5 linked regions of the Homo sapiens genome follow. The protein of the gene in region 4 interacts with the protein of the main gene of each other region in a biochemical or structural test. Each region holds a gene or a part of one and is shown on either strand. Other genes may lie near its edges. The genes, in order: LRFN1, LRFN2, LRFN5, PTPRS and LRFN3.

Region 1 (3,517 bases), about 34 Mb from region 4:
CCACCGCTCGGCAGCGCAGGCTCACCGCCTGGCCTTCCACCACCAGGGCCCGGCCCCCCGCCTGCCGTGTGATCAGCGGGGGCTCACACAGGAACTCCTCCTCGGGGATGGACCAGAAGTAGCGGTCGGTGAGGTGTTCGGGCGTGGCGCAGGTCTCTAAGTCGTCCTCGCGGGTCAGCCGCCGCAGCCAGAGCAGCTCGCAGTTGCAGTGCAGGGGGTTGCCGCCGAAGCTGACGGTCAGCGGGGTGGGCGGCTTGGGCCCGGTGCCCTGCGACCTCAGGAAGAGCCCGTCGGGCGGGAGTTTATGCAGGCGGTTGGAGGTCATGTCCAGACGGACCAGCTTGTGAAGCTGCACGAAGGTCCCCTCCGCGATGTGGTCGATGAGGTTGTGGTCCAGCGTGAGGGTGTTTAGGTTCACCATCTGGCCCACCGCCTCCCACGGCAGGGCCTCCAGGTTGTTGTAGGACAGATCCAGGTCCTCCACGGTGGACAGGAAGGCGTCAAAGGCCGCCGACTCCACCCGGCGGATCTGGTTGTTTCCAAGGATCAGGTGGCGGAGGTTGCCCAGGCCGCGGAGCTGGTCGCCGCGCACCTCCGCCAGGCGGTTGCTGTCCAGGTGCAGGGCCCGGAGGGCACGCAGGTCGGCGAAGGCGCCAGCTGCCACCTGGCCGATGGTGTTCCGGGAGAGAGTGAGGTGCACCAGGCTGGTCATGTTGGCGAAGTCTCGGCGGCGCACGGCGGCGATGAAGTTGTCGGTGAGCCGCAGCTCCACCACGCGCCGGTCGATGGCGGGCGGCACAAAGAGCAAGCCGGTCTTGGCGCACAGCATTGTCAGTGTGGGCGCCACGTTCTGGCAGATGCAGCGGCCGGGGCAGGGCTGGCCACGAGATGCCCCCGCCCAGAGCAGCAGCAGAAAGGGCAGGGCAGCGGGCGGCGGCGAGAGGAGGGCCGAGGAGAAGGGTCCTGGAGCCATGGTGCAGTGGGAAGGCAGGAGGGGTGGGAGGTGAGACCTGCCGGGGAAGGAGCCGGTTACCCAGGCGTGGGACTTGGCCGCCATGGGATGTCCTGCTACGAGTCAGGCCTGGATCCCTCCCCTACCGCCTACAGCTGGGTTCCATAGGATGGTGAGAGGAAGCCACTATCAGCTATTAACAACAGATTACAACACTTCCATGCTGGGCACAGTGGCTCACGCCTGTAATCCCAGCACTTTGGGAGGCCGAGGCAGGCGGATCACCTGAGGTCAGGAGTTCAAGACCAGCCTGGCCAACATGGTGAAACCCCGTCTCTACTAAAAATACAAAAATTAGCTGGGCATGGTGGTGGGCGCCTGTAATCCCAGCTACTTGGGAGGCTGAAGCACGAGAATCGCTTGAACCAGGGAGGTGGAGGTTGCAGTGAGCCGAGATCACACCATTGCAATCCAGTCTGGGCGACAGAGCAAGACTCCATCTTAAAACATAAATAAAAATAAAAATATCTCTATACTGGTTGATAGAATACCCCTGTCCCTACTTGCGTGTCCCACCCTCACCTCTGCCCCTCCTGTAGTAGCTCCCAAACCTCTCATGATCTCCCAACCAGAGGGGTGACACCTGGCCCAACCTGGGCCCTCCAGTACCCACTAAATTGTCTAAAAAATCACTGTTAACTATGGTTTAAGGCCCTGGCTATCCAAGCCATACTCCCTAGCTCCAAATCCCAGCTCTGATACTTACTAGCTGTGTGACCTCCAGCAAGTATCTGAACCTCTCTGATTCTCGGTTTCTTCATCTGTAAAAGGGAGATAGAAACAGGCCTTACTTCTGTGAGGATTAAATGTATTGATGAACATAGCATACTTAGAATAGTGCCAGGCATATAAAATGTGCTTATTACATGTTAGCAATCATCATCATGATCATCAAGTGCTTAATATGTACCAGGCATAGAACAGTGCCCTATTATTGAGAGTAAGTACTTTGAAATCAAACAGACTCAGGTTCAAATCCTGATTCCCCTTTTGCTAGCTCTGTGACCCCCAAGCCAATGATTTCCCCTAGCTAGGCTGTAATTTCTTAATCTGTAAATTGGGATGATAATTGTACCATCTTCATTCATGTACCACCGACCATGCCTGGCATACAGTAAGTACTCAATAAATGTTAAGGGTTTCCCCCCTCCCGCCTCTGGCATTGGCAGGGAGAGTGTCAAAGTGGGAGGGACTGAGGAAAACACATCAGAGTCTTCCAGTTCAGCCTCAGGAAGGCCTTCTCTGAGGTCTGGTTTCATCCTGGGCTCAGTTGAGCTCCCAAGCAAGGCAGACTTTCATGCTCACATCTTTGGGTACACACAACACACACACACACACTCACACACTCACACACTCACGCTATGTCTCTGCTCCAGGCAAAACCTTCCGGCAGGGATTCCCCCTGCGGCGGCTGCAGCCCACGACATGTCAGTTCCCATCACAACACAGGGTGGGCGGGGGGTGAAGAGGAAAGGATGGGAAGGGGGCGTCCCTAAAACTGTTTTCACCCCACCCTGCCCTGTACCCTAGCCCCTGCTGGCCTACCTCCCAGGAATCTGTGTTTGGGGCTACGGCCTTAGGTGGCTTTGATCTTCCTGCCAGTGGGGAGGGGGCCTGGGACAGAGACCAGGAAAGTCAGAGACAGAGGTGAAGAGAGACAAGGAGAGACCAGGGGGAGGGAGAAGTGGACTGGCAAAGAGAGAGAGACAGATTGGGAGAGAAACAGAGAGACAAAAAGATGAGTCTGAAAGGAAGGTGAACAGACAGAAAACTGAGAGTGAAGAATGAGACACAGAAAAGAGAGAGACACAGAAAAAAGACACAGAGATGGAGAGAAAAATAGAGACAGTATTAGAGAGAAAAAGACAGAGGAGGAAAGAGACAGAGAGTAAGAGAGACAATGACCGGGCTGAAGGCGGAAAAAGAGGCCGGATCGGGGTGTCCTACCATCTCTGAGTTCACCCCAAATCTGTCCTTCACTCCCTCTAGATCACTACTCTACAATGTACTGGAAACCCTGGCCTAGAAAGGGGGACTCCAGAATTAGGAGCCTGAGTCTGCCCCTGCTTGGCTGTGGGGTCTTCAGGGCTCAGAATCCCAGTCTATGAAACAGAAGTCCAGAGCCTCGCCTCCGACAGCTGGGGTAGGACTCAAATGGAGGGAATAATAATAGCAATGGAAATAGCTAACATTTATGGAGAGTGGTGCAGCACTGCAGGACAGAATCCGCCCTACTGCCTGGGTTCAGACCTCACCTCCCCACTGTGTGACTTTAATCAAGTGACTTCCCCTTTCTGTGCCTCGGTGTGCTCATCTGTCAAATGGGAATAATAATGGCACCCACCTCATAAGGTTGCTATGAGGATTTAATGAGATAATATTTTATGACATGCTTAGAATAGTTCCTGACAAAGTAAACACTATATACATGTGAGCTGCTGCTATTATCATTATTATTATTACTATTATTATTACTAATTTATTATTTTCTCCAGCTTTCTCAGC
Region 2 (3,517 bases), on a different chromosome or scaffold from region 4:
AGACCTCCAGGATGGATCAAGTATTTTTGATCTCTCTTGCACCATGGGCCCTTTGGCTGTGTGATGAAACTCATGGGATCCCATCTCCAAACAATCATTTTACATGCATAAAATAAAACACACAGAATTTCAAAGGACACCATACATTCCTTGAGCGGTAAGGTTTTAGGCCATGTCCTTCATGTTTCATATAAGGGAACTCATCTGTGGTCAGCATTTTGGCCCCTGGCCTTCTGTCACTCTGTGACCTTCTTTCCTCTGAATGACTTATGTGATTCTATTGCAGCTTTCCACATTTAACCTCCCTTTCTACCAGACCTAGGAAATGACCCCTTGATTTTCAGAGAACTTTTCAAGGTCAGTACCATTGTCTTCACTTCTAGATGCAGAGACTAAGGCCCAGGGGGTTCAGCACAGGTGAGAGGGCTGATGCTACCTGTAAGACCCAGGGGGCTCACATGATGTGGTCTGACTCAGTCAGCGCTCAATTGGGAAAGGGAAGCTCTTCTCCCTCTAGGGCTCTAAGTAGGCTCTAGGGCTGCTTAGAGGACCCAGCAGAGGTCTCCCAGGGGAAAGAGACTCCCTGACGGTGAAGCCAACCCAGAGAAAAATAGAACTTAGGGAAGGTAAGAAACTGAGAATACAGATTTGTAGGGGACCTTTGATCCAGCTGAACCTGAAGCAGGTTCCTGACTTGTTAATGACATGAGTCAACACACTCTCCCTCCCTTTCTCTCTCTCTTTTTTTTTTAAAAGCCAGTTTGATTCAGTTACCAAAACTGAATAAGTGCATTTAGTGAGTGTCCAAACTAAGTCAGGTATTAATTATCCTTATCTTACAGATGAGAAAACTGAGGGAGGCCAGGAGAATGAAATGACTAGCAAGTGGAAAAGCCATGATTTGAATCTCACTCTTTCTGACCTCAGAGCCTTAACCATGACTGCATATGAGTCCAGGTGAAGGTCAAATGCATGCCTCTTTTGGGGAGTCAGAACCTTCAGCCAAGAGGTCTATTCATTGTCCTTGTATATCCTCCAACTGGGCTTAGAACAGAACATTCATAAGCTCATAGCCATAAGACCACTGACCACAGCCACCCAGCCGGGAGGTGTGGTCTTTCTTTACACATATCTCTCAGGCTGCCCGTGTGGATTCTTTTCTTCTTAGCCTTGTAGTTGATGTTCTTTTTATCTCCTCTTACCTGCACGAATGGCACAGTTTGCCCCAGAATCCCCACAGACACCTTTGGGGAAGAGGGGTATAGGTGGGAGCAGCCCCAAGACCTCCCCATCCCCTCCTCCTTCCCCAGCCAGACACCCTCCCTGCCTTTGCCACAGCCGCTTGCTCACCTGTAAATCAGTACCTCATCGTCAGAGCAGTTGTACTGCAGCTGGTACATCTTCACCCGGGGTGCTGACTTGCTGACAGACCACTTGACCAGGGCCGAGGTGGTGGTCACTTCAGACACAAGCACAGCCCGTTCCGGGGGGCTTTTGGGAGGCTCTCCGCCCCCACTGCCTCCACCTCCCCGGCTGGTCTTGCTGGAGCCAGTGATGTCTGAGAGGCGGGACTTGGGGGGTGCAGTGCGGCTGGTGCTGTTGCTGAGGTGTGGCAGCTGGACGATGGAGACCTCCACCATGGCCGTGGCCTCTCCGGCAGCATTGGCAGCAATGCAGGTGAAGGCACCACTGTCCTGAGATGTGGTGATGAAGATGTCCAGGGTGCCATTGTCATAGACAGCGGTCCTTGAGGAGTTCCCTACCAGGCGGTCATCGGGGGCTACCCAGTGGATAAGGGGGCTGGGGTCCCCAATGGCTTTGCACTTGAGTGTGGCCGCCTGGCCCTCCAGAACCAGCAACTTGTGTGTGTGCTGGGTGATGAGAGGCGGCTCGCACACAAACTCCTCCTCACGCACATGCCAGAAGTAGCGACCCTTGAGGCCCCCTGGGGAGCCACAGGTTTCCAGGTCATCGTCCCGCTCGAGCCTCCGCAGCCAGAGAAGCTCACAATTGCAGTGAAGTGGGTTACCCCCAAAACTAAAGGACAAGGGTGGGGCAAAGGGTGTGGCTGTCAAAGCCGAAGCCTGGGAGCGGGCAAAGATGGGATCAGGGGGCAGCTTCTGCAGCCGATTGGAGGTGAGATCCAGGCGGGCCAGTTTCTGCAGGTCTGCAAAGGTGCCCTCGGCGATGTGATCCAGCAGGTTGTGGTCCAGGCTCAGCTGGTGGAGGTTGACCATGCGTCGCACGGAGTCCCACGGCAGGCCATGGAGGTTGTTGTAGGAGAGGTCCAGATCCTCCAATGTCAGCAGGAAGTCCTCAAAAGCCTCATCTGCGATGCCGCCCAGCTGGTTGTTGTTCACGATAAGGTGCTGCAGGTTGACCAGGCCCCGGAGGGTGTCCTCCCCAAGGCTTGGCAGCCGATTGCTGTCAAGATGCAGGGAGCGGAGGCTCTCGAGGTCCAGAAAGGAAAAGGGCTGGATGTGGCTGATGGTGTTCCTGGACAGGGTCAGGTCCACCAGCCCCGTCATGTTGGCAAAGTCCTGGCGGCTGATGTGGATGATGAAGTTGCCGCCCAGGCGCAGCTCCACTGTCCGCCGGTCAATATCAGGGGGTACAAAGAGCAGCCCCTTGGAGGGGCACAGGGTCCCCAGTGACTCAGACAGATTCTGGCAGACACAGTACTTGGGGCAGGCGTCGACCACGGCAAACGCCATGCCAAACGCTAGCAGGCCACCAAGCAGGGTCTCCATGGTCTGGTCACTCAGCGCCTGGAAGGGAGAAACACAAGCTCAGGGTCAGGAGGCAAATTCCTAATGCACTCACCCAGAGCTTCCTCCCTCACATTAACCCTCACTGCCTTAGGGAGTGGCATAGAATGGCAAGTGCTCAAGCAAGACCTAATCTCTTCCATGAATCCCTCTAATGCAGTTTTACTGTTTCTCTTTTCCTTAGCTTTATCACCTTCTAACACACTATTTAGTTTACTTATTTATGATGTTTATTTATTGTTTCCTGTTTCAGTCCTCTATGGTCAGCTCCAAAGAGGGCAGGTACTTTTGCCTGTTTTACTAATTGCTGTATCCCAATTACCTAGCTCAATGCCTGGAACACAGTAGCTGCTCAATAACTATCTGTTGGATGGATGGATGGATGGATGGGTGGATGGATGGATGGATGGATGGATGAATGCGATACCATATCATTGGCTTATCCAATAATTGAGTTTGAAAGGATATTATGGCTGTTTTTTGAGGCATAATTTTACATTCTTAATTGGTTTAGGCTTAGCATGAAATTAAATTGAACCAGCATTCCTTAAGAATGAGGTTGTAGATAAGAAGAGAGTTGGTGCTGAGAGACTCCAAGGTCAGTGGGGAACTGTTTCACCAAGGAGAATCCACATAGTTTATGAATCTTTGAGAATGTGGGAAGTGAAGAAGGAGGTGTGATGGGAGGCAAAGGAGTGAATTCTGAACCCTTCATAAGCAATTAGCCTCTATCTGGACCCTCACATACA
Region 3 (3,517 bases), on a different chromosome or scaffold from region 4:
AAAGCTACATTGTAAAATGGCATTTTCTATTGCTTTGTTTTTCACATATATAATTTCAAGGTAAGATAAACAAATAATAATTGCAGTTATTAAAGCATGCTACTTACAAATTTTAAAAATTCTGCTAGAAAATGTGTATGATATTAAAATTTTACAAATATTTAATAATACATTTAATGGTAGTAAATTATTCACCTTAACTAATCAGTTTTTCACCCACAAAACAAAATAAATGGAAAACTTACAATAACTCTTACAGGCATTCCATGTTTGAATTAAACATGATTTTGAAAGAAAATAATGTAAAAGCCATTTTATAAAAATATTTAAACATAAAACTGTGAAAATATTTTTCCTCTAATATGTGTTCTCAGTCTTCATGGATTTAAGATATGTCTAATGAAGTCTATTCTTGATGAAAATGGAAAATAATTTTTTGAGAAATATATGCTTTCATATACATGAGTACAAGTAATTTTCTCTTTTCCATTAAAAAACAACTGCATCTTAACAATTTTTTATTTGGGAATTATAAAATGCATGGCATGAATGAATCATGAAATAGAGATTCATTTATTTAGTATTCTATATTAAAATGTTGATGTAGAATATCTTTAGATAATTTTATGTGATAAAGTTATTAAAGTATATTAAAGGTTATTTTTGGTAACTTTATGTGAAGTTAGGTAAAATGCTGTAAAGATATTTTATTTAAGAAAACATTTCAAAATAATTGATAATCTGAATAGTGAAATTGATTTTAGCAAAAATAATAATTTTGGAAAGCTAATAAGAAATACACCATATATGTGAAGACTGTTAAGGGACCAGTGTGTATCTTATTTGTAAAAAAAGAATTACTTTTTAAAAAGCTACTGAAATATAGATATTATTATCATAATTTACCTGGAATATACTAAGAAAAACATTGCAAAATCACTGTAAAAATGTAATGGTATATATTACTAAATTCTTCTTTATTTGGTTCATTGCAGAGCTCATATTGGTAAAATTGAAAATCAACATGTTTTCTCTTTTTATATTTCAAGTGATATACTCCCTTTGACACAAAAAAGGTGTTATGATACTATATCAAAGGTCAAGTTACAAAAAGTAGTAAAAGTAAAAGTTGCAGTACACCTAGAAGGAAAATGACAGTGGACAAAATAACTAGTTTAAGTTTTTAAGTAATAAATGGTTCCAGGATAGCAAACTTTAATTTAGTATCAAGTTAATGATTTTGTAAGCTGACATATCTTAAAGATTTACTAGAGTTTCACATTAACTAATCATATTAACAAACTGTAAAATTATGGTTTATATTTGAACAGTAGGAAATAAAAATTTTGTGAACTAAGAAGTTTGTCTGCTCTGAAGATGTAGCAATATTAAAATTATTAAATAATATGAAGCCAAATAAAAACTGGCATTTAATAGAATATCCAAAATGACACTTTTTAATTTACTTATCAATAGATAGCTCCTATAGTAATTCCATAAATACCTAAACATAAAACACAAAATTACAAGAGTATCAAACAATACAAATAATACAGACTAAATATGGTAAAAATGTTACAAAAACTAAAAATAATCAAGTTGTAGTAGGTTTAGGATGTTTTGGTTATTGTCCTCATTTAAGAGTGAGTGGATATCATGCAAAAATCTGTGGACAGTCTTATTAACAGTACTAAAAGATAAATAAGAAATGCAAGCTCCCTGAACATTAAGAGAAGAAAAAAAATCCTGACATTAAATGAATTGTGGGAAAAGATTTATTACTGCCCCTATTCTCAATGTAATTAAGAACTGTGAAATATTTTGATCTTTTATAGCTAGGATGTCTAAGCAAGGAGATGATTTCTAAAGGTCATTGCTGACCCAAAGGCTCTCCTTTTTTAAAATTTGTTATAATGTTCAAATATATATGTTAAAAACATGCTTTAATTATTATAAAAACAGCCAAATGTTTCCTACATATGTGTTTATTCTATTACTCTTATTTCAGAAAATTTACTTGAAAAGAATATCATAGGAACCTCCTCCTGCAGAAGCAAATATTTTACATTGATCACACTCACCTGGAAACAAATTGGAAGCATATTTGCATCATGTGTATAAAATTTGCTTTTCTCTTTGGCTCTTATTTCATGTATTTTCCTAACCCTGTGTTTTCCCATAGTTTTATCAGTGTTGTTATGTATTCATAATCAATATTAGCTTTTAATTTGTATATTAATTATCTAAAAAATTGTACTCATCTGTAACAGAGATTTTATTGCAAAGTTTACACTTTTGCTTGTTATTAAATGTGGACTAATCGCAAGTTAAATTTATTAAAATCAAGAAGCAATTATCTTAAAGGCCTGTGCAAGCAATCACAGAATAAGCTATAGCTCTTGTGCAAAGCTACACACACACACACACACACACACACACACACACAATGCATACATATTTTATTGGTCAGAAAACAGCAAACAGTTCTTAAGAAATTTTATTTAAGGCATTTTCAGTATAAATGGAAACTACTCAACTATTTCTTACTTAACTGCCGAACAGCATAACTATTGTTTTACTGTGTTCCTTGTAAAGATAAAAATCTTGGCCAAACACAAGGAAAATTTATAGGTAAGTGTCAATTTCCACGTAGAGTTATCAGCATTAATTTTATACGTAATTCCTTTCCCCTTTCCTCTCAATTCATTTTAGTGTGATTAAAATTTTATGATTATATTATAAAAGAATTGTATTATATATTAGATATTAAAATATTTCAAGGCCACTCAACTTTTATATACATTCCTAAAGGCTTCTAAAAAAGAAAATTGGCATGGGGCATATTCTGAATAATGGAAATGAAATAAGTGTTTTAACTCTCTATGCTTAGAAAAAAATTCACCTTAACAGGTACCTCAGTATGACTGGCTACGGAAAACTCGGAGCTGAAGAGTTGCAATCACAAAGGGTCTCTGCCCGCTCTCCACCTCTGTTCATTCACACACTGACAATGTGAAAGGCTATGACAAAGCTAAGAACACACAGGTCACACACTGTCTTCAGTAGGGGCATCACTGTTTGGTCTTCTCACAGTGGTAGACATAGGCCTGCTATAGCACAAATCATTTACCGAGAATCAAGAATAGTTACCTTGGGGTCATACAGTAACTTAAATCTGATAATAGAAAGGTAGCAAGGAGCTGGCTAATAAGTGAGTGATGTATGGCCACTGAATTTTGTTAAAACTATTATTTGTCTTTGGATTTGTTTTACTTGCTAATATTTATAGAAAGAGGAACAAGGTAGCTTAAGTATGAAGGGAAGTTTTCTATAATATATGACAGTCATTTATTTTTAATGATATTTTCTTATTTTTTGTAATACTAATTACTTTAAGATAAAAAGTTATTATTCAAAGCCTTATATATGTATCACATTTGCAAAATTTTGTGCTATATCTCTTAGTACAAAGACTTCCAAAGAAAGTCTAAATTCCATTTATAATAATATACTAAAA
Region 4 (3,517 bases):
GGGCCAGATGGGGCCAAGAGAAAAAGTCCTGGGACCTGGCAGCCTCTCTGCACCCTGCTGATATCTGGGAGTTGAAGCCAGCACTGTTGCCGGAAACCCCGGCAGTTCACACTCTCTAGAATTCATCCGACAGGGGCAATTACCCACTTCCAATAATCAATGGGGCAGTGGAACCAGGACAGATGTGCAGAGGGAACCCATTAGCAATCTAAGCGTTCTGGCCCCGCGAGACGTCAGGGAGCGTGTTGGGTGGACGCTCAGGGACAAAGGCACCATCTGCCTGATTTCTCTCGCTGTCTTGGGTCTTCAGCATAAGTCAGGGCTTCTTTTTTTAAAAAAAAAAAAAAAAAAAAAAGAGAAGGCCTTGCTCTGTTGCCCAGGCTGGAGTGGAGTGATGCAATCATAGCTCACTGCAGCCTCAAACTCTTAGGCTCAAGCAATCCTCCCACCTCAGCCTCCCCAGTAGCTGGGACCGTACGTGTGCACCCCAACCCTCGGCTGATTTTTTTTTGTTTTTTGTAGAGATGAGGTCTCACTGTGTTGCCCAGTCTGATCTTGAACTCCTAGGCTCAAGCAATCCTCCCGCTTTAACCTCCCAAAGTGTTGGGATTATGGACGTGAGCCACCATGCCTGGCAAAATCAGGGTTTCTAAACCTCAGCACAGTGTACATGAGGGTGGGGTCATTATCTGGGATGGGGTCATCCTGGCCATTACACAGAGTTGAGCAGCATCTCTGGCTTCCACCTACTCCATACCAGCAGCACCCCCCTGGACATGACACCCAAAAATGTCCCCAGACGTTGCCAAGTGTGCCCAGGGGAGCAAAAGTGACCCCGGCTGAGAACCACAGCAGTACACTCAACGAGTAATACTGGTAACCCGGGTGCTCCAGCCCCAAGAGCAAACGACTGCGCTACAGAAAGAACGAGGGATGGAGAAGCAGGTCCTGCCGCCAGTAGATAATTCGCAGCCCTGCCCCGCGGGACAGCCGGCTTCCTTCTACGCAGTATTTAATTTAAGTCAAGTTTATCATTATGACCAATATTAATATAATCAGAGCCAACGTTTATCGAGCGCGGACGCTGGCCCAGGCCCTGTTCTCAGCACTCTCTGTAAGCTATCACACTGGTGCCTCTAAAGAACCGCAGAGGTGGCTGGGAGTCTTAAACCCATTTCACAGGCCTGGAAACTGAGGCCCGCGGACGGCAATGGAGGTGTCAGAAGTCACGCAACTTTTAATTGTTGGGGAAGGGGTCAAAGTCCACGGTGGCCCTGGATTTCTGTACTGTGCCATGTTAAGATGTTTCAACCCAAGGATGTTAAAATAGGGCAATTTTTTTTTTTTTTTAGACAGAGTCTCACTCTATCGCCCAGGCTGGAGTGCAAGTGGCATGATCTCAGCTCACTGCAACCTCCGCCTCCCAGGTTCAAGCGATTCTCCTGTCTCAGCCTCCCAAGTAGCTGCGATTACAGGTATGCACCACCATGCCCAGATTATTTTTGTATTTTTAGTAGAGGCGGGGTTTCACCATGTTGGCCAGGCTGGTCTCAAACTTCTGACCTTAGGTGATCTGCCTGCCTTGGTCTCCCAAAGTGCTGGGATTACAGGCGTGAGCCATCATGCCCAGCCAAAATTGGGCAATTTTACTTAAAATCTAGATTTCTGCTTTTCCTTGGAAAAACCAACAGATCTGGCCCTGGAGCCATTCAGGGCTTCCTTGGAGGTTGAAGAAGCCTTTTTGGCCCATACGACCCGCTGGAGTGGAGACTCCAGCCCTGACAGGCGTTATGGCTTGAGAATCACACACCCGCCATGGCTTCCTGCCTCGGTTTCTCCCTTTGGACTGGTGAAAGGGGTCCCTGTCCATCCTCCTGCGCAAGGCCCAGCAGCAGGCAGGCAGGCATGGCTGTGTGGTCTTGGGCAAGTTGCTCTCCCTCTCTGGGCCTTGGCCTGACAGATGTTCCAAGAAGCATTCCCAACATTCCAGGTTTTCTGTTGATCCTGATGTTGGCAGCCCAGCTCTGGGGGCTTTCAGAGAACTCTGACCGCACATCTAAAAAATGCAATTTGTTAGACGCGGTGGCTCACGCCTGTAATCCCGGCACTTTGGGAGGCCAAGGCAGGCGGATCACTTGATGTCAGGAGTTTGAGACCAGCCTGGCCAATGGGGTAAAACCCCATCTCTACCAAAAATACAGAAATTAGCCAGATGTGGTGGCGGGTGCCTGTAATCCCAGCTACTCGGGAGGCTGAGGCAGGAGAACCACTTGAACCCGGGAGGCGGAGATTGCAGTGAGCTGAGATCACGCCGTTGCACTCCAGCCTGGCGACAGAGCAAGACTGTCTCAAATAAATAAAATAAAATAAAAAATAAATAAAAAATGCCAATTCGCCAGGTGTGGTGGCTCACACCTGGAATCCCAGCATTTTCCGAGGCCAAGGCAGGCAGATAGCTTGAACCCAGGAGTTTGAGACCAGCCTGAGCAATATGGTGAAACCCATCTCTACAAAAAAAAAATAAATAAATAATAATAATAATAATAATAATAATACAAAAGTCAGCTGGGCGTGCTGGTGGATGCCTATAGTCCCCAGCTACTTGGGAGGCTGAGGTGGGAGGATTGCTTGAGCCCAGGAGTTAAGACACTGCAGTGAGCCATTATGGCATCACTGCACTCCAGCCTGAGCAACAGTGTGAGTCCTGTCACACACACACACACACACACACAATGCGATTCGAACTCCTTGGGGTGGGGGGTCCTGTGTGGTCTTCCCCAGCTAAAGTCAACTCTTCTCTTCTTGTTTCCGCCCCCCTCACCTCCAGCCACAAAGCAGCAGGTGCCACTCTCAGTCTCTGTCCTTGGTGCCCCCCACACCAGTTCATCTGTCTCCACTTATGATAGAGGCAATGTCAAAGCACCCATTTTACAGATCAGGAAACTGAGGCACAGAACAGCTTTATTACTAGCCCAAGCCCCACAGCTGCTTAGATTCTGGCTTCCAAGTTCCTTAGCAGCAGGTTTCCAGCAATCCTGATGGAATGAATGAATTAATGAACTGGTGAATATTCGAATGAATGCATGCATGCTCGCTCGCACACCATGCTTGTCAACCGATCACTTTCCTGAGTGCCCATCAAATGACTGCTGTTAAACCCCCAAATCCCCCCCAAACTCCCCCCTTTGGTGATCACTCGGGCCCACCAGGGGCTCTGGAAGTTGGGAGCCACATGTGGAGTCCCTGGAGTGCCTGGAGCTCCCAAGGCAGCCACGTGTCCTCCCTGTCCACCATCCAGGCCCCCTGTGGTTCAGCTCCCGCCAGTCGCCCAGTCCTGCCGCAGAAGTGGGGCGGCCTTGATTAAGCAGCCAGTGAAGGGGAACGCCCCAGTTTGCAGTGGCTGAGTCATCCTGACATCTCCCTGGTGCTGGACCCCATCGGGGGGCTGAGGGCGGGGTAGCGGGGCGCGGGTGGACACTGGAGAGCCCCTCTTGGGCAGGTCCTTCAACATATCAGT
Region 5 (4,069 bases), about 31 Mb from region 4:
TTCAAGACCAGCCTGGGCAACAAAGTGAGACCGTGTATCTATTATACAAAAATTTTTAAAAATTAGCTAGGCATGGTGGCGCCCACCTGTGGTCCTAGCTACATGGGACACTGAGGTGGGAGGATCAATTTGAGCCCAAGAATTTGAGGCTGCAGTGAGCTATGATTGCGCCACCACACTCCAGCCTGGGCAACAGAGCGTGACTCTGTCTCTCCAAAAGAAAAAAGTAAAGAAATGGTCAGAGAAATGACAGCTGGTCTGGGTGAGTGGCAGGAAAACCAGAGGGCTTTAGACGTGGTCAGAGATGGTAAAAGCTGGCCATGGGGAGACGGGGCAGCCAGGGTGGCAACAATGATCAGAAGTGGTCAGATATGACCAGAGAAGAGAAGGGGTTACAGATGGTCAGGAAGATGAGCAGTGGACAAAGAGAAGGGAGGGCATGGGTTGGGCTCAGATCTGGGGGAGATGACCATGTCAGAGACACGTGGTCAGAAACGGCCCAAAGCCAGCAAGGTGGTCAGAGAGGAGGAAAAGGACAGACATGGCAGAGTCAGTGGGAGCCCAGGACAGCTGCTCAGGAGGATGGTGCGGGGAGAGGTCATCGGAGAGAGGAAAGGCAGCAGAGATGTTCGAGATGATCAGAGGGCATCAGCAAGTGAGAGAGGAGAGGTGGCCAGAGATTATCAGAGGGCATCAGTGAGTGAGAGAGAGAGAAGAGGTGGCCAGAGATGATCAGAGGGCATCAGCGAGCGAGAGAAAAGAGGTGGGCAGAGATGATCAAGAGGGCATCAGTGAGTGAGAAAGAGAGAAGAGGTGGCCAGAGATGATCAAGAGGGCATCAATGAGTGAGAGAGAGAGAAGAGGTGGCCAGAGATGATCAGAGGGCATCAGTGAGTGAGAGAGAGAGGAGAGGTGGCCAGAGATGGTCAGACAGTTGCAGACTGGGAGTTAGGGTCAGGGGTGGGAGGAGGGCAAGAGCAGTGGGAGAGATGGCCAGAGAAAGGGAAAGGTGGCCAGAGGAAGCTAGAGAGGAGAGATGGACAGAGGCTGCTGGAGAGAAGAGTGGTGGACAGCAATGTCAAAGATGGATGGGGACGGTCACAGACCTAGGCTTAGATTCAGGGGTGGAGAAGGAGCAAGAGAGCTGGTGAATGATGATTAGAGAGAGGCACAGTGGACACAGATGTCAGCGATGGTCACTGAGAAGCAGCAGGCAGAGGCGACTGGAGAGAGGACCTGTGGACAGGGGTGTCACAAAGATGATCAGAGAGAGAAAAAGGGAACAGAGATGGCCATTGAGAGGACAGGTGGAGAAAGGAGCCCAGAGAGAGGAGTGGTGGACAAGAGAGGTGGCGGAGACGGTCGGACCGGATAGACAGCGAAAGGCTGTAAGGGTTGCAGGGGTCAGAGACCTGGAGGTCCCATCAACTGAGGCAGGGAAGGTCAGAGAGGGGCAAGGATGGCCAGTGTCCAGAGAGTGTTTGGAGCAGAGCAGGAGCTGAAGGCAGACCCATGGGGGAATGTCTTTTTTTCTGGAGAAACCCCAAGAGTGTCAAAGGGTACCTGGTACCGTAACCCGCAGCCACAATGCTCCTCCCAGCCCGTCCCCACCTTGAGGTTTCAGCAGCCTTACCTGAGCTAGAAGCAGCCCCAGGGAGCAGAGTCCTAGCTCCAGGGGAGTCAGAGGTCAGGGCTCTGGAGGGAGCATCTGGTCATGCTTTTCCTGTCCCCAAGGCTTCTGTAGAGGGACTGTGTCCTGACTCGGCTCAAATCTGTGGCAACGGAGTCTCCAGACCTTAATACTCGGGGTTCCAGACCCCTAAATATTGGGCCTCTAGGGTCCAGTTTTACGGGTCCAGTTTGGGTTGTTCAGGGTCAGGGTCTCCCAGGTCCAGTCTTGGGATGCTAAGCAGCCAAACGGTGGGGTTTAGAGTCTGAGATCCGATCCCGGGGTTCTGCATTCAGATATTGGGGTGCTGAGTCAAGATTGGGAGGTCTCAAGCCCCAGATTTAAGCACTCAGGTCTGCAGCAAGGACTTCAGGCCCAAACTCGGGTTCAGGCCCCTTGGAATCCCACAGTCCAGATCTTGGAATTTGAGGCCTGAATCCCAGGGTTCAGGTCCCCAAGAGTGGGTTCCAGGGTACAGTACTGGAAATCCAGTCCCAGATTTCAAGGTCCCAGGCCCAGAATTCAGAGTTCAGCTCCAGGCTTGAGGTTTTAGATGTCAAATCTTGGGGTTCTGCTCCAAATATTGGGGTCTGTGTTCCAAATTGTGGGGTTCCGGCTCCAAATATTGAGGTCCCAGTGACCGATGTTGAGATTCCAGCCCCATATACTGGGGTTCAGGCTCCAGATCTTGGGGTTCCACGGCCGGATCTCGGGGTGCTGGTCCCAGATCAGGGTTCCAGGCTCGGGTTTCCGGAATTCCCGATTCAATCTGGGGGTGCAGGCCCCCGAGGTGGAGGTTAGGGCGCGGGGTCCGGGGCGGCGGCGTCCCGGCTGGCTTCCTGGGCTGCGGCGGAGGCTGACTGGGAGGGAGGGGACCGGCTGCGGTGGGGAGGGGGGCGACCGGGCAGCCCCAGGGCCGGGTGGGGCGAGGCCTGGGAGCGGAGGGACGGTCAGACAGACTGGGACACGCGGGATGGGGGCACCGCAGCGCAGGCGGGGGCGCAGGGGGGAGGGGCCGCGCTCAGAGACCCCTCCCCCGCCGGGGCCGAGGCGGGGGCCGGGCGGGGGCCGGGCTGGGCGGGCCGGGTCCAGGCGCTCCCGCGGCCTCCTCGCCGGCAACCCAGGGCAGCGCGCGCACCGGCGCTTAAAGGCGCAGGCTCCGCGCGCACCCGCGCTTAAAGGCGTAGGCACCCGCCCCTTCTCTCAAAGACGCGCCCCGGCCCCACCTCCCATGGAGTCGCACTGGCGCTGCTGGGAAAGAGAATCCCTGGATACAGAGAGACTGAGACAGAGAGACAGAGAAGAACGGAGATACAGAAAGGCAGACAAAAAGATGGGCAGGCTTAGATTGATGGATAGAGAGGAGAAAATGGAAAGAGGCAGAGAGACAGATTGAAACACACACATATTCGAGACATGGAAATGCACAGAGACAGCGAGACACAGAGAGTGATGGAGAGACAAGAGATAAGGACAAGTCAGAGAAAGACAGAAACAGAGATAGAGACGTGCGTGCGCGCGCACACACAGACACACACATACACACTCACACGCTCTAAGACGCAGCACCTGGGCTGTGAGAATGGTATGTGTGTATGTGCATTCAGTAACTATTCCTAGCCTTGAGTGTAGCGCTTCATTCCAGAGCCACTGGCCCCCCAAACCTGTCTCTTTCTGCCCCCCTTATCTCAGCACCACCTCCCTGGAATGTCCTTTCCACGGTTGGAGTTTCCTTACCTGGCCATGCCCAGCAATAGGCTTGATCTTTCAGGCCAGAGGGGCTCCTTCCCAAGGCTCCTTTCTCTGCCTGCAAGAGGGAAAACTTGTGCCATCTGGGATTAGGGAAAGACCTCAAGACACACTGACAGCCGGGGGCGGTGGCTCACGCCTGTAATCCCGGCTCGTTGGGAGGCCAAGGCGGGCGGATCTTTTGAGATCAGGCGTTGGAGACCAGCCTGGCCAACATGGAGAAACCCCGTCTCTACTAAAAATACAAAAATTAGCCGGGTGTGGTGGCGGACGCCCGTAATCCCAGCTACTCGGGAGGCTGAGGCAAGAGAATTGCTTGAACCCGGGAGGTGGAGATTGTAGTGATCTGAGATCCAGCCATTGCACTCCAGCCTGGGTGACAGAGTGAGACTCTGTCTTTAAAAGAAAGAAAGAAAGAAAGAAAAGCAGAGAGGGATGCCTTGCCTTGCAGGAGCCAGGCCAGGTGTCCTTGCAGTGCAGCCCACCAGGATCACCCGGGGGCACCATAGATCTCCAGGTCCCAACCTCAGAGTTTCTGGTTCAGTGGGTCTGAGGTGGGACCCAAACATTTGCATTTTTAACGAGTACCCAGGTGATGCTAATGTGACTTTTCAAAGACCATACTTTTTTTTTTGAGACAGGGTCTTGCTT

The links.
Region 1: the proteins of PTPRS (region 4) and LRFN1 interact in a biophysical measurement, tested with the Homo sapiens proteins (one large-scale study listed by IntAct).
Region 2: the proteins of PTPRS (region 4) and LRFN2 interact in a biophysical measurement, tested with the Homo sapiens proteins (one large-scale study listed by IntAct).
Region 3: the proteins of PTPRS (region 4) and LRFN5 interact in a biophysical measurement, tested with the Homo sapiens proteins (one large-scale study listed by IntAct).
Region 5: the proteins of PTPRS (region 4) and LRFN3 interact in a biophysical measurement, tested with the Homo sapiens proteins (one large-scale study listed by IntAct).

What each region holds. Positions count from the first base shown.
Region 1 is NC_000019.10:39,314,364-39,317,880, forward strand, and holds part of LRFN1 (leucine-rich repeat and fibronectin type III domain-containing protein 1 precursor), read right to left. Parts: intron 1,774-3,517; 5' UTR 1,719-1,773; intron 1,011-1,718; 5' UTR 974-1,010; coding exon 1-973. UniProt on the Homo sapiens protein: Promotes neurite outgrowth in hippocampal neurons. Involved in the regulation and maintenance of excitatory synapses. Induces the clustering of excitatory postsynaptic proteins, including DLG4, DLGAP1, GRIA1 and GRIN1.
Region 2 is NC_000006.12:40,430,364-40,433,880, forward strand, and holds part of LRFN2 (leucine-rich repeat and fibronectin type-III domain-containing protein 2 precursor), read right to left. Parts: intron 2,769-3,517; 5' UTR 2,751-2,768; coding exon 1,351-2,750; intron 1-1,350. UniProt on the Homo sapiens protein: Promotes neurite outgrowth in hippocampal neurons. Enhances the cell surface expression of 2 NMDA receptor subunits GRIN1 and GRIN2A. May play a role in redistributing DLG4 to the cell periphery.
Region 3 is NC_000014.9:41,900,362-41,903,878, reverse strand, and holds part of LRFN5 (leucine-rich repeat and fibronectin type-III domain-containing protein 5 isoform 1 precursor), read right to left. Parts: intron 1-3,517. UniProt on the Homo sapiens protein: Cell adhesion molecule that mediates homophilic cell-cell adhesion in a Ca(2+)-independent manner. Promotes neurite outgrowth in hippocampal neurons.
Region 4 is NC_000019.10:5,330,796-5,334,312, forward strand, and holds part of PTPRS (receptor-type tyrosine-protein phosphatase S isoform 1 precursor), read right to left. Parts: intron 1-3,517. UniProt on the Homo sapiens protein: Cell surface receptor that binds to glycosaminoglycans, including chondroitin sulfate proteoglycans and heparan sulfate proteoglycan.
Region 5 is NC_000019.10:35,935,120-35,939,188, reverse strand, and holds the start of LRFN3 (leucine-rich repeat and fibronectin type-III domain-containing protein 3 precursor), read right to left. Parts: upstream 2,816-4,069; 5' UTR 1,634-2,815; intron 1-1,633. UniProt on the Homo sapiens protein: Cell adhesion molecule that mediates homophilic cell-cell adhesion in a Ca(2+)-independent manner. Promotes neurite outgrowth in hippocampal neurons.